2 linked regions of the Homo sapiens genome follow. The protein of the gene in region 2 purifies or fractionates together with the protein of the main gene of each other region. This does not show direct contact. Each region holds a gene or a part of one and is shown on either strand. Other genes may lie near its edges.

Region 1 (9,167 bases), on a different chromosome or scaffold from region 2:
GATTAAAGCAGGAATTACAGGTTCAAAAAAGACTTTTTTCCTACTAAGCCTCCATGAAAGCAGCTCGTGCTTCCTTCTCTGATGCCTGCATGGAAGTCATGGGCATTTGTAAACTTGTCCTACTTGGAGGAATAATTTAGGTTGATGCTTTTCTAGTCCATTCCCCTTCACAATGCTTTTGTACTCTTGTGTATCCTCATGAAAAAAGATTTGATCAAGCCACACTTCTTGCAGATTTTATCACAAAAACAACAGAGACATTTATATGGAATAGACTTTTTCAAACTACATGCCTTGCCTCCTGCCTGGGGAATCCTCTCAGGTGCAAATAACTTATACCCTCCTGAGCCTCACAACACAGACAGAAACTGCTGACAGGACAGGGCCTAACACCCTTACTCTTTTTTTTTCTCGAGACACAGTTTCACTCTGTCGCCCAGGCTGCAGTGCAGTGGCACAATCTCAGCTCACTACACCTCCGCCTCCCGAGTTCAAGCGATTCTCCCCACTCTGCCTCCCGAGTAGCTGGGATTACAGGCGCATGCCACCATGCCCAGCTAATTTTTGTATTATTAGTAGAGGCGGGGTTTCACCATGTTGCCCGGGCTGGTCTTGAATTCCTGACCTCAAGTGATCCGTCTGCCCCCGCCTCCCAAAGTGCTGGAACTACAGGAGTGAGCCACTGCACCCAGCCCTATCACCCTTCTTCTTTTTTTTTTCTTTTTTGAGATGGAGTTTCCCTCGTCTCCCAGGCTGGAGTGCAGTGGCGCGATCTCGGCTCACTGCAACCCCCGCCTCCTGGGTTCAAGTGACTCTCCTGCCTCAGCCTTCCGAGTACCTGGGATTACAGGCACACGCCACCATGCCCAGGAAATTTTTGTATTTTTTGTAGAGACGGGGTTTCACCATGTTGGCCAGGCTGGTCTCAAACTCCTGACCTCAGGTAATCTGCCCACCTTGGCCTCCCAAATGCTGGGATTACAGGCATGAGTCATCACACCTGGCCCTATCACCCTTATTCTTTTTTTTTTTTTTTTTTTTGAGACAGACTTTAGCTCTTATTGCCCAGGCTGGAGTGCAATGGCACAATCTCGGCTCACCACAATCTCCACCTTTCAGGTTCAAGCGATTATCCTGCCTCAGCCTCTCAAGTAGCTAGCATCACAGGCATGCACCACCATGCCTGGCTAATTTCGCATTTTTAGTAAAGGCGGAGTTTCTACATGTTGGTCAGCCTGGTCTCGAACTTCCAATCTCAGGTGAACTGCCCGGCTCGGCCTCCCAAAATGTTGGGATTATAGGCATGAGCCACTGTGCTCAGCACCCTTATTCTTAAGTTAGTTTGGTTCTCTAAGGTTCCCAGGGCTGGCAGCCTCACTGAAGTAGAAATCTTTGTATTGTTCCTACCCAAAGACTGGTTTTTCTTTTCTTTCTTTCTTTCTTTTAGAAACAGGGTCTTGCTCTGTCACCCAGGCTGGAGTGCAGTGGTGAAATTGTAGCTCACTGCAGCCTCAAACTCCTGGGCTCAAGTGATCCTCCTGCCTCAGCCTCCCGAGTAGCAAGGACTACAGATGCATGTCACTAACCTGGCTAATTTTTTTTTTTTAATTTTTTGTAGAGATGGGGTCTCACTATGCTGCCCAGATAGTCTCGAACTCCTGGTTTTAAGTGATCCTCCCCTTAAGGGCTGGTTTTCAATCTGTCGGTAACTGGCTATTACAAAACAACCCAGGCAGCAGGATGAGTAGCAACTTGCTGGCCACAGGTCTACTTACAGGCACTTTCCTGCCTCCCTATGAAGGTTGTGAGTATAAATCTTGGCTGGATGCAGTGGTTCGTGCCTGTTAACCCCAGCACTTTGGGAGGCTGAGGCAGGCGGATCACTTGAGTCCAGGAATTTGAGACCAGCCTGGCCAACAAGGCAAAACCCCATCTTTAGAAGATATACAAAAAATTAGCTGGGTGTGGTGGTGCATGCCTGTAGTCCCAGCTACTTGGGAGTCTGAAGTGGGAGGACTGCTTGAGCCTGGGAGGTGGAGCACAGAGGTGGAGTGCAGTGAGCCGAGATCGCATCACTGCACTCCAGTCTGGAAGACAGAGTGAGACCCTGTCTCAAAAACAAACAAACAAAACTATGTATTCACAGCATACAGCATGATGTTTTAAATGTATGTATATACTACAAAATGATTAAGTCGAGCTAATTAACAGAATTTTTCATAAAGCCATTGCTGTGATAACTAATAGCTAATATTATAGAATATTTTAAATATTTTATAGAATATGCATTAAAATATTTTAATACTTCAAGTTTATTATAAATTTTAAATAGCAATATCTTAATATTACCATTTTAAGTTATTATATTTGATATGTTAATAGTATTACATACTAATATTTAATAATATTTTAATAGTATTTTTAAATAACATCTTCATTTTACTATTCAGCTCTTTTCGTAACAGCTCCTATTTACTGAGCACTTACTATGTGCTGCCAGGCACTACGGAAAGCGCTTCACCTTCTCATCCCAGGGAGTTCCTGCAGCGACCTTGTAAGGTTGCTGCCCTTATTCCTGCTTTAGAGATGAGGAAACTCGAGTGTCAAGTTACACGCCCAAGCTGCCCTGGGACACTGCTTGTGAACCCAGGAGAGTGATTCCAAGGTTGCAGCCCTTAGAACAATGATGGCTGCCTGGTCCTGTGCCCATCTGTTGGGTGGCCCTGGTCTCTCTGTGGTGCTTCATTACACCATCTCCTCACCCATCAGCACCTTAACTCCAGCTGAGCCCTCAGGTTTCTTCAGATGGACTCGTGCTCCAGCCCCTCAGAGGGCACATCCCTGCTGCCTGCCTTCCCCAAACGTACCCATGATCCTGCGAATGGGGTCATCGGGACTGGCCACGGCCTGGATCTGGCCCTTGAGCACGGTCTCCTTGTCCGTGGTGAAGGGAGAGGACCCACACAGGGAGAGGCAGCTGCTCACCTCCAGGCACACCTTCTCCCCGATGGTAGTGAGGACGTCCTTCAGATGGAAGGAGCTGGGGCAGAGGAGGGGAGAAAGGGCCTATAAGTAAAATACACCTCTAACCAGCTCCAACCGCCCACACCCGGGTGAGAATGACGGCACCAATAACTGGATTTGTGTGTTCAAGGGACAATTTGAGACTCTTTTCCCTGCCACCTTACCTCTCAGGCTGTGCATACCTGACCAGGGGGACTTTCTTTCTCTCCCTCTGCTAGAAAGGACAGTGGGAAGGGCAGGGGCTCAGAGTATACCAGGACCAACGACCCAAAGCACAACTTCCTGCTAGCCTCTGTGTGATAAAATCAGCCTGGAATGACCTCAGAATATCTTGATATACCTCTGGAGGAATACACAAGAAAGCAGGCATTTGGTAGCTGTGGGACAAGAGGGAGAGAGAAACTCTTCATTGGATGCCCTTTTGTACCTTTTGATTTTTGAAACATACACATGTATTAACTAATTTTAAAAGAATAAAGAGGCCGGGCTCAGTGGCTCACGCCTATAATCCCAGAACTTTGGGAGGCCAAGGCAGATGGATCAGGAGTTCTAGGTCAGGAGTTCAAGACCAGCCTGGCCAACATGGTGAAACCCCATCTCTACTAAAAATACAAAAAGATTAGCTGGGCATGGTGATAGGTGCCTGTAATCCCAGCTACTCAGGAGACTGTGGTAGGAGAATCACTTGAATCCAGGAAGTGGACGCCGAGATCACGTCATTGCACTCCAGCCTGGGCAACAAGAGTGAAACTCCATCACAAAAAAATAAAAAAATATATAAAAATTAAAAAATTTTTAAAAAATAAAAGAATAACGAAAAGTGAAATCCTAAAGTTAAAAAAAAAGAGTACCTGGATACCCTGGGTCCCCCAGGCTCTCCCAGGGTGCCTGTGGGGAGCCCCCATGCTGGCAGGCATGCTGTGAGAAGGTAACTGCCTCTGTTGTGGGTCTAGATCCTTTGTATGTAGAATTACTGGGGGGCATGGGAGCAAGCCCTGGCACTCACCATTGGCACCAGCTCTGTGCCCACCCCTGGAGGACCAGGGAGGATATGGGAGTGCAAGGCTGGGCTCCCAAGAAAGCACTGACCTGGATCCCACCCTCAGCGGGAGCTTTGACAGAGTAGTTCTCCAGGCAGGGGACCTAGGTGACAGCCCAGAGCTGTACCTGTGCAAAGGCCTCAGGCTAGGCCCTCAGCTGAGCAAACAAGTTTCCTGGCCTCTCAGCAAACTAGTTTGACTGTCAAAACTGTTGAGGCCCTAGTCACAACTTACGGACACGCCCCACACTGCACTGAACACAGCCATGCTTTGTGAAAATTCAGCAGTAAAATTCCTCCATTTTGTAAGGATGAGAATGTTTAGGGGGTACTTCCCTTGAAGAAGTCTCTGAATTGGACCTTGTTAGATAGAGCATTTACTTAGAACCACTCAAAGATATTCTATAGGCTGGAAACCATAGAAGTCACCCAACATGACTCCATGGTAGGAGCGGTCACTGAAGCCTGCACGCGTGCAGATGCGGACTCGTGCTGGGTAAGAAAATGATGCATTACACTGAGCACAGAACGCCTACAGGGAACAAGCAAGGGCAGAACACTTCAACCACATACATGCAGCTCTGCAGGAATATAGCTGGTTTCTCTCATGACCTTCCTCTAGGGCTCTGCTTTTCACTGTTAGTCGGTTATGAAAGCAATTCAGTGGGTAGCAACCAATTTTTTTTTTTAATGGAATAAGAATAGAGTAGAAACAATCAGGCTGCATTAAACACAGTTAGGGTCAGTTCCAGTTTGAGAAGTTTTCGTTTCTGTTACACGTGTGTTAAGTGTGTACTAGGTCACAATGGAAAATGAATTTCTTACTGCAGGTCCTAGTCACAAACATTTTTGTCCCAATTAATGTCTCTGGGTTCCAGTTTCTTCATAAGCTCCAGTAAGAGTTTAATACATTTGAATGGCTTTGGGAGAGGAATAAAGCACTCAACAAACAAACACAAGAACCTTGGAGGTCAGGAGACAAAGACAACCCCATTAAAGAAGGAAGGGGTCAGACAGCATCCTGCTCCCTGCGTAGGGAGAACAAATGAGTTGATGGCACTCAACACCGAGCCAGGCCCCGGGAGGAGCATGCTAACAGGGAATGGAGGGCCGCGGGACCTCTAAGCCCGGGATCTCCAATTCCTCAAGGCAAGCAACCATTGGTACCAGCGCTCCCCACCCTGCTCATGGCTTACCCCCCAGCCCGAGCCACTTCTTCTCTCGCCTCCTAAATGCTCCCTCACATCTACTATGTGCCCCATGCCAAAATTTAAACTTAAGGGCATAAATCTAATTACGTTCCCCCTCTTGCTTCAAATCCTTCAATGGCTCCCTACTGCTCTTAGGACAATAACCCAACTCCTTGGTGTGGCCTCTAAGGCCCGACAGGCTACTCGGCTAGTCACACACATTTTGAAGCCACTATCCTAGAGCTCTGCTAACCCTGCAGCAGATTCTAACTTTGACCCTATGACCCTAAATAAACTCTGCTGGGGTCTTCGCCAAGTGAACCAACTGAGACAGCAAGGTTTCTTCTCAGTTCCTAGAGAGTGGCCCTGGGCTCTGCCTTACAGTGGGAGACCCCTCTGGGAGACTCCAGTCGGCTCTCTGACATCCACTGCGTCCCATCCACGCATCAAAGTTCCACTTACGGCAGGTGCATATCTGTTAGCAAAATCTTCACAATCATCTTGAGTTTCTCAGCAAAGTCGGCCTGGCTGGAAATTCCTGGCGCTGCCATGCTGAAGGTGACCAGCAACACAGCCCCCAGGATGGTCAGTTGTTCCAGCTGCAACTGGAGCTCGTGGAAGCGAGACTGGTCCATTAAAACTGTCTGTAATGAATAGAAGAGGCCATCGCTGAGCTGCAGGTCCAGGTTGGCCAGCAGAGGGCGGGAGCGCCACAGCCCCCACACCTGCCTCTGCAGCTTCCCTCAGGGTTTGCGCTAGTGTGTCAGAGCTTTGAGGGAGTCTGGTGTGAAATAACCCCTCTATCTCAGAGCCGTTCCTCCTGAGCAAGGATGCAGTATAGCGCCCTCACTAAGAACACAGACAGGCCTGGGTGTAAAGCCAGGCTCCGTGCTTAATACCATGACCTCCCCGGCTGGCCGCGGTGGCTCACGCCTGTAATCCCAGCGCTTTGGGAGGCCGAGGTGGGCAGATCACCTGAGGTCAGGAGTTCAAGACCAGCCTGACCAACATGGTAAAACCCCATCTCTACTAAAAATACAAAACTAGCCGGGTGTGGTGGTGCATGCCTATAATACCAGCTACTCGGGAGGATGAGGCAGGAGAATCTCTTGAACCCAGGAAGCAGAGGTTGCAGTGAGCTGAGATTGCACCTTGGTACTTCAGCCTGGGCAACAAGAGTGAAACTCCTTCTCAAAAAAAAAAATAGCATGACCTCATGCATGCATCCCCAACTTTGTCGGGCCTCTGCAGAATGGGGACTCCCACATCACAGGGCTGTTTTAAAGCTGAAGAAAGATGCTACATATAAAGTGGCTGGCAGAGCCAGCACTCGATAAATAAAAGTTATACTTATTGTTAGGAAGAAAAGTATAATGAGGCACAGACCTAGGGTCACCAACTCCTCCCAGTTTGTCTGGGACTGTCCCAGTTTTCAAATGGAAATTCCCAAGTCCTGTGAACCCTCACTCAGTCCCTAGCAAACTAGGACAGCCAGTCACCCTGTACAGAGCAATGGAAGGCCAGGTGCGATGGTGGGTGCCTGCAGTCCCAGCTACTGGGAGGCTCAGGCAGGAAGATCACTGAGGCCGGAATTTCGAGGCTGCAGTGCACTACGATTATGCCTGTGAATAGCCACTACACTGCAGCTTGGACAACATAGTGAGACTCCATCTTAAAACAACAACAACAAAAATCCCAGAGCAATGGAAGGGAGGACTGCCTTGCAGGCAGAGCCTACACTTATTCATCTTGGTATCCGCTCAGCACCCAGCACAAAGGAAGCTTGTAAGAACTGGCGAGTAAATAAAGAGGAAGAGAAAGAAACAGGAAGCACAGAGAGTAGAAGTGACAGAGAACAATCTAAAGCCTCCCGGAAAGCAAGCACATTCCCATGACTGCCTCCCCCATGTTAAAGACAGTCCTGGGTCCTACCATGCCAGCGCCCCCACCCGTGTGGCTGAGGGAAGGAGAAGGGAAAGGCTGCACAGATGGGAATCTGATCTGAGAGTTTACAGGCTCATCGAATGGACTCTAAGGACCTTTCTTGCTGTCAGAAACTGAGATTTGCCAAGTCAAGACATGAACAATGTGGGTCACAGCCAAGAAGTAAAAACCCTGAGGATTGAGAATCCTCTGCTGATACAAATACAATCCCAAGGACTCATCGTCGGCCTGTTTTCTGACTTCACATGGCTTTGTGGCTTCCCAACAGCAGGACGTGAGTTTAGGATGCAGATTGCCAAGGATCAATTCCTGGAGTAGACAGCTGTCCCCAGGGACCATCACCATCTTCCCCACAGCGTTTCTTTTCTTTTCTTTTCTATTTATTTTTTTTACGAGAGGGTTTATTCATAAGACTGCCAAGTGAGGAGGCTGGAGAACAGGTCTCACATCCCCCTCTCCATAGAGAGGGCTTAGGGATATTTATGGGATGAAGAAGCAGGGGTATCTAAGGCCTGGGGAAGATGATCAGCGGTGGGGAAAAGGGAGGTATTGGATGGTCTCCCACAGCTATTTTTAAATAGACATGTCAGGCTGAGAACTTCCCTCCAGAAGAGAACATGCCACAGTTCAAAGGGAACATTTTCCCATCTCCAATTTGACATTCTCTTTAGAGCTTCCTCCAGCACAAAACGGGGAACTCAGAGGCAAGAGGTGAAACCTTAAGCTCACAACTTCTTGAAAGGAAAAATAAGGAACTTATAAGAAAGATATTTAGAGAAGTATCTGGATCTGAGGCTAGTGATAAGAAGCTCACGTACCCCCCAAAAAGAGAGGGGGAGTCTACATAACAAAACAGCTATTTAGAGAAACACTGGGGGAATCCCTTCTTAGTCATCTTCTTAAAGAGGTCTTGCAGTTAGAAGTATGTATTGTGAAAAACATAAAAAGAAAAAAATATTGTTCAGCATGGAAGGGGAAGAAGTTTCTTTAGATAAAGCTGTGAACAACCACACCTCTGTTGTGGTTTCCATCAAGATGAGTAAAAACAGGAGAAAAATTCAGCAGCACAGACTGGAGCCTCATACATTGCTGGTGGGATGGTAAAATGATGCAGCTGCTTTGGAAATCAGTTTGGCAGTTCCTCAAAATGTTAAACTTAAGAGTCACCATGTAACCCAGCAATTCTAATCCTAGGTACGTAACCAAGAGAGGTAAAAACATATGTCCATGCAAAAACTTGTACTGGAATATTCACAGAAGCATAATTTATAATAACAACCCAAATGTTTGTCAACTGATGAATGAATAAACAAAATGTGGTACATCCATACAGTAAAATATATTATTCAGCCTAAAAAAGAAAGGAGGGCTGGGCATGGTAGCTCATGCCTGTAATCCCAACACTGGGAGGCCAAGGAGGGAGGACCACTTGAGGCCAGGAGTTTAAGATCAGCCTGAGTAACATAGCGAGACCCCTGTCTCCACAAAAAACACACTTAAAAATTAGCTGGGGGTGGTGGTACACTCTTGTAGTCCTAGCTACCCAGGAGGCTGAGGCAGGAGGATCACTTGGGCCCTGAAGTTCAAAGTTACAGTGAGCTGTCGTACCACCTAGCCTGAGCAATTCAATGAGACCCTGTCTCTAAAATTTAAAAAAATTTTAAAAAACCCAGAAAGGGAACACTGACACATACTACAACATAAATGAACCTTGAAGACATTATGCTAAGTAAAATAAGCCAGACCCAAAAGGACAAAGATTGTATAATTCCACTCATATTAAGTACCCGGATTAGTCCAATTCACAGAGACTCAAAGTAGAATGGTGGCTGCCAGGGGCCAGAGGGCGGGGGCAATGGGAATTACTGTTTGGTGTGTTTGGTGGGAAGACAGTTTCACAGAAGGAAAAATGAAAATGTTTTGGAGGTGGCTGGTGGCAATGGTTGCACAACAATGTGGATGCACTTAAT
Region 2 (9,789 bases):
CTCCCTGCCTCAGCAGGGCTTCTAATATGACTAAGCACTTCACATACCACAGTCATGAGGAGGGAAACACTGCAACTTAAGATAAACCAAAAGTTAGTAAGATCATTCTATATGGTCCTGGTCCTCAAAGAATAACACTTTGAAATTTACCCTTAAAGTTGGACTTCTCAACTAAAACCATTTTATCCCTGATTTTTCATATGCTGAGATCTGAAAATACAACACAACCTTTGTGAATATAATAAACATGTTAGAGAGTCATTGTTTTCCACCACAAACATACCAATTTGAACTTGGTAACTTTGGTATCTTTGCAGCATTTTGTTCTTTTAAATGCTTATTGTGGTTTTGTTTAGTTTGATTTTTTTGTCAAGTCATCTTCTGGCTGCCTTGGATTTTTTACAAATAAATATTCTCTTTCCTCTTAAATGCCTCTGAGTCTTCCTGTCACACCAGGCAAAGCTTTTCTACTACAGGTCAAGCATCCCTAATGCAAAAATCTGAAATCCTCCAAAATCTGAAACTTTTGAAACGCTGACACCACAAGTAGAAAATTCCACACCTGACACACAGTCAAAATGCGGTCAAAACGTTGTTTCAGGCACAAAATTATTAAAAATATTGTATCAAATTACTTTCAGCCTATGTGTATAAAGTGTAAATGAAACAATTTTTTTTTTTTCTTTTTTAAAAGACAGGGTCACCAGGCGTGGTGGCTCATGCCTGTAATCCTAGCACTTTGGTAGTCCAAGGCAGACGGATCATGAAGAGATCGAAACCATCCTGGCCATCATGGTGAAACCCGGTCTCTACTAAAAATACAAAAATTAGCCAGGCATGGTGGCGCACACCTGTAGTCCCACCTACTCGGGAGGCTGAGGCAGGAGAATCGCTTGAACCTGGGAGGCAGAGGTTGCAGTGAGCCAAGATCATGCCACTGCCCTCCAGCCTGGCAACAGAGCAAGACTCCGTCTCAAAAAAAAAAAAAAAAGAGTCTCGTAGGTTGCCCAGGCTGGTCTCAAACTCCTGATTTCAAGCAATGCTCCCACCTCAGCCTCCCAAAGTGCTGGGACTACAGGCATAAGCCACCAAGTTTCATATTTAGATTTGGGTCCCATCCCCAAGTTATCTCATTATGTATATGCAGATATTCCAAAATTCAAAAAAATCCAAAATCCAAAAAACTTCGAGTCCTAAGCATTTCAGATAACAGATATCCTATTCTTTCCTGAAACTAAATAGATAGCAGCAGAAAGATATAATCACTTCCCTTCGAGTGTAATCAACAATCTTCACAACACATCCTGAATTCATCCACCTGTCTCCATCCCACTATGACCATTCCTGGATTACATCAGCTTCATTACTTGCCTGGACTGCAAGAGCTTCTTAACCAGTCATCTTGTTTCTGTTCTCTCCCATTCTCCTCACTGTAGTGGGAGTGATCTTATAAAAAACGTACATCATATCACAAACCTTCAAATAGTTTCCCATTGCAGACAGAATAAAATCCAAGTCCTTATCATGACCTAGAAGACTGTATGAGCTGACCTACCACCACCCATCCTGACACAAACTTCACCTCTCACCATTCTCTCTCCTACAATACTCAAGCCAGAGTTGCCTTCATGCAGTTTCTCAAACCCATCAAGCTCAGCCCACCTGGAAGACCTTATGCCTGGACACTTTCTCCAGATCTCTGCATAACTTATTCCTCATCATCATTTAGATCTTAGGTCAAATATCAATTCCAGAAAGGTTTTCCCTAATTACTCAACCCAAATGAATCCATTCCTTCTCTCCTCTACTGTTATATCATACTCTTATTTTTCTTCATACTTATTTAAAATCATGTGGCCTATCATTAATTGTCTATTGTCTGCCTCCACCACTGAAATGTAAGCTCCAGGATGGAAAGGCCTTTAATCTGTTTTGTTTCGAGCTACACCTGAGCACCAGAACGGGACTTGGGACATGATAGGCTCTAATTCACTACACTTGATTGAATTAACTAACTAACTATCCCTGTTCTAACAAATACATATGTGCTATACTTAATTTAAAATCCTATCCAGAATGAAGGGAACAGACTAGCACCCTCTGCAAATTTTATTGTATTATATCCAAGACCCAGCCTGCAGAGACTCTGATTTTAACAGTTTAGCAGAACTCAAAATTCTACATTTTTAACAGGCACCCCAGATGACTGTAATGAAACTGTCTGTAAAACACACTTTGAGAAATATCCATTTATACACTCTTTTTACACTAAAATGTCTTTAACAATGAAATCAAAGTTTACCACCATCTCCATGAACAGCAACACCATTATCTAATCCTTTTCCTCTTCTCTACTTCACTCCTTTATTCCATTCCTGCACCGACCCCACCCCAAGATAACGGAAGTATCCTCTCCCAAGCTGCTTAGGACATTTACCACAAATGAACCTAGGAAAAGACAATTCTCATAAAAAATTACAACCAATTTCCTTTTGTCCTGCAATCAACATGGCTGCAAATTAAGAGTTTTAGAGAAGGGCTTATTGATTGGTTTTAGTTGTTAAACCAAACATTCAAGAAGTTGTTTGGTTTTATTGTTTGGTTTTGTTTTCCTCTGGACTGAATGTTTTTAGAAACTTATTTTTTCATGGCAAAATCAATACATGTAAGTTGTTAAAATTCAAATAGATACATGTAAAAAAAAGAAAGTACAAAATTACCCCAAAGAACCTCAGTGATAACCACTGATTTGTATACCTTTTCAGATTTTTTTCTGTGCATATACAAACATATATACACAAATAATGTTTCTAATATAGAACCAGAATTGAGAATCTCTGATTTCAGCCAGTCACAGTTAGGGAATAAAATGAAGTTAATCCAAATCAGCTGGAACACTCTAAAAAGTGTTACTATTTTAATGTACCCAAGAACAAAGAAATTTCACCAGTATTTAAATTTGTGCGTTAAACACCTTTAGGCAAGTTACAAGCCTGTCATAGTTCTAATATTTAAGTTACAGGCTGCCTTAGAACGAAGAACTGAGTTCCTGAGGTGTAAGGAAAATCATGGGTTCTTAAAGGCAAAGAGCCAAGCAACTAGTTAACGCCTCCCTACCAAGTCCAAAAGACTAGTCTTACCTGTGGACTATGTGGAGTCTGGACCCCTCTGCATCAGACCCCAAAGTGGAATTACACAGGTTGAAAGAAATCAAAACTGAAATCCTAAGGGGAGTAACCAGGACACTTGCAGTGCAGGTCATTAGCGTGATTGTTGCCAAATTCAAAGCAGAAAGGTGTTAAATGGCTTTTGTAGGGATCAAAACAACATGTGACAGTAGTTCATGCAGATCTGCCACACACATGTATATGCTATTCGCTATGGATGAATCGAGAAAACAACGTCCTCTCTAAAAATGTACATGAACAGTTAGGAGCAACAAATCTTCTTCCATACAGGACTGAAATTAACCGCAGTCAGGTCGGCAGCAGGAGGTTCCAACGAGGCTCCCTGGCTGGCTGCGGCTGCACCCTCGAGGGTTGTTATAGTAACCACACAGACGCACGCAGCTTCGCGTGTGTGCCGAGGAATTCACGGGCAGTACATAAACTGGACTCCCTGCTTCATTCGGAGTAACAAAAACACATACAGAATTTAATCTACGGCCCCACCTGCAATTTCTGCAAGATCGGCTTGACTTCTTCCTCTTCATCAGCCATCATCTCCCGGCCACTCCACCCCCAACTTTATAACCACAGAGACGCACGCCCTCTCTCACCGCGGAACCACAGCGACATCTGGCGTTCTGGAGGCTTTTCTGCCCCAGAAGGGCTTTGCTTCAAACCGACTTAACCATTTATTTCCACAGAGATGCTCTACAATCACTTGTGAGTTCATAAACTTCTTTCTTTCCCAGATCCTGGAAACAAAATGTCCTCAGCTTAATTTCTATATTCTTGTTTCATGTCTTCCTACTTATTTATACTAAGATTATAATACTCCATAAAGAAGAGAGTTTAAGAAGTGCACACCTGTGTTGTTTGAAATTTCGAAAGCCATGTAGTACAATAGCTACTTTACTCAATCTTTTCCAAACTTTGCAGTAATTTTCTATGTATGATTAATTTTATCATTTTAATGCACTATCTTAATAAATACTACACTTGGGATGGCTCATAAAAACCACCATGCTCTACACTAACAATGCCTCCATATTTATAGACAACATCCAGAAGGATATATAAGAAAGGATGACTGTCTCTGCAGAGGGAAACACAGAAACTGGGGAACTGTGGGTGAGCGAAGAAAATTTTCACTGCCTGCCCTTTTGAATTTTCTTGCCATCTATATGTATCACCTATTCAAATATAAACATTTTTAAATAAAAAATTATTTGCTTCTACATAGTCTCTGGAAAGAGACACAAGACACTGGCAAGACTATCGCTTACAAAGAGCAGAAGTGAGTGGCTGGAGCAAAAATGAGTGACCAGGGAACTGGGGTAGACTTTTCACTCTATGCCTTTTTTGTAACTTTAAAGTTTGTACCTTGTGAATATATTAAACTTCTGAATAAATCTTTTAAAGTGTCATGTAATATTCCTGGCAGTTTTGCTTTACTTTTTTAGTTTTAATTACAGCTTCAAGCTGATTCTGTGAAACTAACAAAGAAGTAAAACGTTCAAGGCAGAAATCATGAATATACATAAAATCATTTCCTCAAATCATTTTCCAACATAAAGGAAATAGTTTGTATTGTAACCTATAAAATCTATGTCGTTAGCTGTAAAATAGGGAGGGATGTTTTAAAAATTTTTTTTTGAGATGGAGTCTCACTGTGTAGCCCAGGCTGGAGTGCAATGGCGCCATCTCGGCTCACTGCAACCTCGGCCTCCCAGGTTCAAGCGATTCTCCCGCCTCAGCCTCCCGAGTAGCTGGGGCTACAGGTGCATACCACCACGCCCGGCTAATTTTTTGTATTTTTAGTAGAGACGGGATTTCACCGTGTTAGCCAGGATGGTCTCGATCTCCTGACCTCATGATTCACCCGCCTCAGCTTCCCAAAGTGCTAGGATTACAGGCGTGAGCCACCACACCCGGCCCTAAAACTTTAAAATTTTTCATCCTCTTTCTCAGACATTTTAACTTTGGTGCACACGAGGCTGGGCACGGTGGCTCACACCTGTAATCCCAGCACTTTGGGAGGCCAAGGCGGGCAGATCACTTGAGGTCAGTTCAAGACAAGCCTGGCCAATGTGGTAAAACCCCATCTCTACTAAAGATACAAAAATTAGCCAGGTGTGGTGGCATGCACCTGTAATCCCAGCTACTTGGGAGGCCAAGACAGGAGAACCACTTGAACCCAGGAGGCAGAGGTTGCAGTGAGCCAAGATGCTGCCACTGCACTCCAGCCTGGGCAACACAGCAAGACTCCATCTCAAAAAAACAGTAATAAATAATTTTGGTGCACATTAAGAATAATTTTTAAGAGATTTTATACTCTATATTCCTAGTGAAGGAAACACTACTTGCTTTTCAATTATGTAAAGCAGGGGTATTTAATTGCCTTTCTACAATGACTAAATATATCTTCAAATGATTTCAGTATAATTTTTATTACCTAAAAAACAATGGGATTTGACATTTAGGGTAATTCCATTGTTAACACATCTTAAACCATTAAGAATCAATCCTAAAATTTAAGAGTTAGAAAAGGCTGTAAGGATAACTTAATTCAGTCCTTCATTTTACAGATACAGAGACTAAGTCCAAGAAAGTTCAAACTAAGTAGAAACCAGAACCCAGATCTTCTGCCTCTCCAGCCAGTATGCTTTCAAATCTTTCCTCTAACAGGACATAAAGTTACTGAGAATGTCCTTCAAATTTCTATCATGGCTCTACATTTTAAATAAATAAATGCATAAACAATTTAATTCCCATAATAATAGTCAGAAATACTCACTAAATAAAGGAAAACAATAAATAAATCTTTTATTTTAATACAATCTCGAGATCAATAACACATTGGTAAACTTTCTGCAGAAGTGCATTCCTAAATAAGTAAACCCAAGGCAATAGTTGACAAAAAGGTAAAGAAGTAGCTTTATTTTAAAATACAGTCTTCCTTTGGTATCTTTGGGGGATTGGTTCCAGGAACCCTCATGGATACCAAAATCCTTGGATGTTCATGTCACTTTTATAAAATGGCATGGTATTTGCATATAACCTACAGATTCTCCCAAATACTTTAAATCACCTCTAAATTATTTATAATACCTACAATGTAAATGCTATCCAAATAGTTGTTATATAGTATTGGTTTTTAATTTGTATTTTTTTATATTATTTTTTCTCAAATATTTTTGATATATGGTTGGCTGAATCTGCAGAAGCAGAACCTATGGATACAGAGCACCGACTGTAAATGCCAAAAAAATTAACTTTAAAAAATAACTTCATCAACGTGAGTTATTTTTAAATACAAATAGGGACTGAACATACATGCATCAAATTGTACTCTCGTTCACTGACATAAGCACACCTCCAAACAATACGAAGGTAAATACATAAATATATACAAATAAATACACACACCCAAATAACAAGCTACACATCACCCACCATTTTCCAAGACCAAAATTTTCACATAAACATACTGGCAAATACAGCAAAATATCAGTGTACATTAACATACTTACATATACAGATATGCATAAATACCAGAATTCAAAGCAACATGTAGCATATAACACAGGTACTTAAGGCATAAACACCACAGCTCAGTGAGAAACAGCACAGGGAGAAAGAGTTATCTATTGAAACAAATACTATTGTGACCTTCTCACACTAGGGATGAAAATTCAGCAGTTCACAATGGAATTGAGACTAATAAAATGCTTATGCTTTAAATAATAGAAACAAAGAAACCAGACTCTAAACCACTCCCCACTGCCAATGAGTTTGTTATGTTGATAATGTGAAAACAACTTCAGAGACTTAAAAGCACAGAGAAGCTGGGGAGTCCTATCTAGAAAAAAGATTTGCTACCCTGCCCCTGCCCCTGCCTCTGCCTCTGCCTCTCCCTCTCCCTCTCCCCTCTCCCCTCTCCCCTCTCCCCTCTCCCCTCTCCCTCTCGGTCTCCCTCTCCCTCTCTTTCCACTGTCTCCCTCTGATGCCGAGCCGAAACTGGACTGTACTGCTGCCATCTCGGTTCACTGCAACCTCCCTGCCTGATTCTCCTGCCTCAGCCTGCCGAGGGCCTGCGATTGCAGGCGCGCGCCACCACGCCTGACTGGTTTTCGTACTTTTTTGGTGGAGACGGGGTTTCACTGTGTTGGCCGGGCTGGTCTCCAGCTCCTAACCGCGAGTGATCCGCCAGCCTTGGCCTCCCGAGGTGCCGGGATTGCAGACGGAGTCTGGTTCACTCAGTGCTCAATGGTGCCCAGGCTGGAGTGCAGTGGCATGATCTCAGCTCGCTACAACCTCCATCTCCCAGCCGCCTGCCTTGGCCTCCCAAAGTGCCGAGATTGCAGCCTCTGCCCGGCCGCCACCCCGTCTGGGAAGTGAGGAGCGTCTCTGCCTGGCCGCCCATCGTCTGGGACGTGAGGAGCCCCTCTGCCTGGCTGCCCAGTCTGGAAAGTGAGGAGCGTCTCTGACCGGCCGCCATCCCATCTAGGAAGTGAGGAGCGCCTCTTCCTGGCAGCCATCCCGTCTGGGAAGTGAGGAGCGTCTCTGCCCGGCCGCCCATCGTCTGAGATGTGGGGAGCGCCTCTGCCCCGCCGCCCCGTCTGGGAGGTGAGGAGCGTCTCTGCCCAGCCGCCCCGTCTGAGAAGTGAGGAGACCCTCCGCCCAGCATCCGCCCCATCTGAGAAGTGAGGAGCCCCTCCGCCCGGCAGCCACCCCGTCTGGGAAGTGAGGAGCGTCTCCGCCCGGCAGCCGCCCCGTCCGGGAGGGAGGTGGGGGAGTCAGCCCCCCACCCGGCCAGACGCCCCGTCCGGGAGGTGAGGGGCGCCTCTGCCCAGCCGCCCCTACTGGGAAGTGAGGAGCCCCTCTGCCTGGCCAGCCACCCCGTCCAGGAGGGAGGTGGGGGAGTCAGCCCCCCGCCCGGCCAGCCGCCCCGTCCGGGAGGGAGGTGGGGGGGTCAGCCCCCCACCCGGCCAGCCGCCCCGTCCGGGAGGTGAGGGGCGCCTCTGCCCGGCCGCCCCTACTGGGAAGTGAGGAGCCCCTCTGCCCAGCCAGCCGCCCCGTCCGGGAGGGAGGTGGGGGGGTCAGCCCCCCGCCCGGCCAGCTGCCCCGTCCAGGAGGTGAGGGGCGCCTCTGCCCAGCCGCCCCTACTGGGAAGTGAGGAGCCCCTCTGCCCAGCCAGCCGCCCCGTCCGGGAGGGAGGTGGGGGGGCCAGCCCCCCGCCCGGCCAGCCGCCCCGTCCGGGAGGGAGGTGGGGGGGTCAGCCCCCCGCCCGGCCAGCCGCCCCGTCCGGGAGGTGAGGGGCGACTCTGCCCGGCCACCCCTACTAGGAAGTGAGGAGCCCCTCTGCCCAGCCACCACCTCGTCTGGGAGGTGTACCCAACAGCTCTTTGAGAACGGGCCGGGATGACAATGGCGGTTTTGTGGAATAGAAAGGGGGGAAATGTGGGGAAAAGATAGAGAAATCGGATGGTTGCCGTGTCTGTGTAGAAAGAAGTAGACATGGGAGACTTTTCATTTTGTTCTGTACTAAGATAAATTCTTCTGCCTTGGGATCCTGTTGATCGGTGACCTTACCCCCAACCCTGTGCCCTCTGAAACATGTGCTGTGTCCACTCAGGGTTAAATGGATTAAGGGCGGTGCAAGATGTGCTTTGTTAAACAGATGCTTGAAGGCAGCATGCTCGTTAAGAATCATCACCACTCCCTAATCTCAAGTACCCAGGGACACAAACACTGCGGAAGGCTGCAGGGTCCTCTGCCTAGGAAAACCAGAGACCTTTGTTCACTTGTTTATCTGCCAACCTTCCCTCCACTATTGTCCTATGACCCTGCCAAATCCCCCTCTGCGAGAAACACCCAAGAATGATCAATAAAAAAAATAAAAATTAAAAAAAAAAGTTAAAAAAAAAAAAAAAAAGAAAAAAGATTTGCTAAATGAAATCACTAAAGATGAACATAGAAACAGTCTGTAAAGTTAGCTAAATTATCTTTATTTTTTTTTAGAAACAGGGTCTCACTCTGTTGCCCAGGCTGGAGTGCAGTGGCATGATCTTAGATCACTAAAGCCTCAGACTCCTGGGCTCAAGTGATCCTCCCAGCCTCAACCTCCTAAGTAGCTGGGATCACAGGTGCGTGACACTATGCGTGGCTCAAATTCTTTTTACTTTGAAGGCCCTGCTAGAAACTTGCTGCTGCTCTAATTCACGACTTGGAGAGACAAAACTAAAAAAGCTGTTGCTGGGTTCAGGTGCTGTGGGAGAACCCGCAAAAAATGGTCTGAACTGAAAATCTCCATCTCCATCGCCCCGATTTCGAACAGGTGTATTATCCAAAGGAAACTTGGAGTTGTTACCTAGGGCAGAAAAAAAGGAAAAACATAATTTTATTCATTTGTTATCTATATAATCTACTTCAGAGGAATCATCAAATATATATATATGAATATATATTTTTTCTCCAATATTTGTCTTAGAAAAAAACAGACATATAAAATCTTTTACCCCAGGTTAAGAATTTTTTTAAAAAAACATTGCAATAAACATTCTAGAAAAAATATAACTGAAATATTGGCATATACCATGACCCAATATCAATTAGCATAGGC

What was found.
Region 1: the proteins of TTC5 (region 2) and TCP11L1 purify together in Homo sapiens (affinity purification with mass spectrometry; 2 studies listed by BioGRID and IntAct, with this or other methods). This does not show direct contact.

What each region holds. Positions count from the first base shown.
Region 1 is NC_000011.10:33,062,560-33,071,726, reverse strand, and holds part of TCP11L1 (T-complex protein 11-like protein 1), read right to left. Parts: intron 5,898-9,167; coding exon 5,716-5,897; intron 3,041-5,715; coding exon 2,868-3,040; intron 1-2,867.
Region 2 is NC_000014.9:20,302,216-20,312,004, forward strand, and holds the start of TTC5 (tetratricopeptide repeat protein 5), read right to left. Parts: upstream 3,737-9,789; 5' UTR 3,723-3,736; coding exon 3,672-3,722; intron 1-3,671. Other genes in the region: E3 ubiquitin-protein ligase CCNB1IP1, read right to left, coding at 9,335-9,537. UniProt on the Homo sapiens protein: Cofactor involved in the regulation of various cellular mechanisms such as actin regulation, autophagy, chromatin regulation and DNA repair.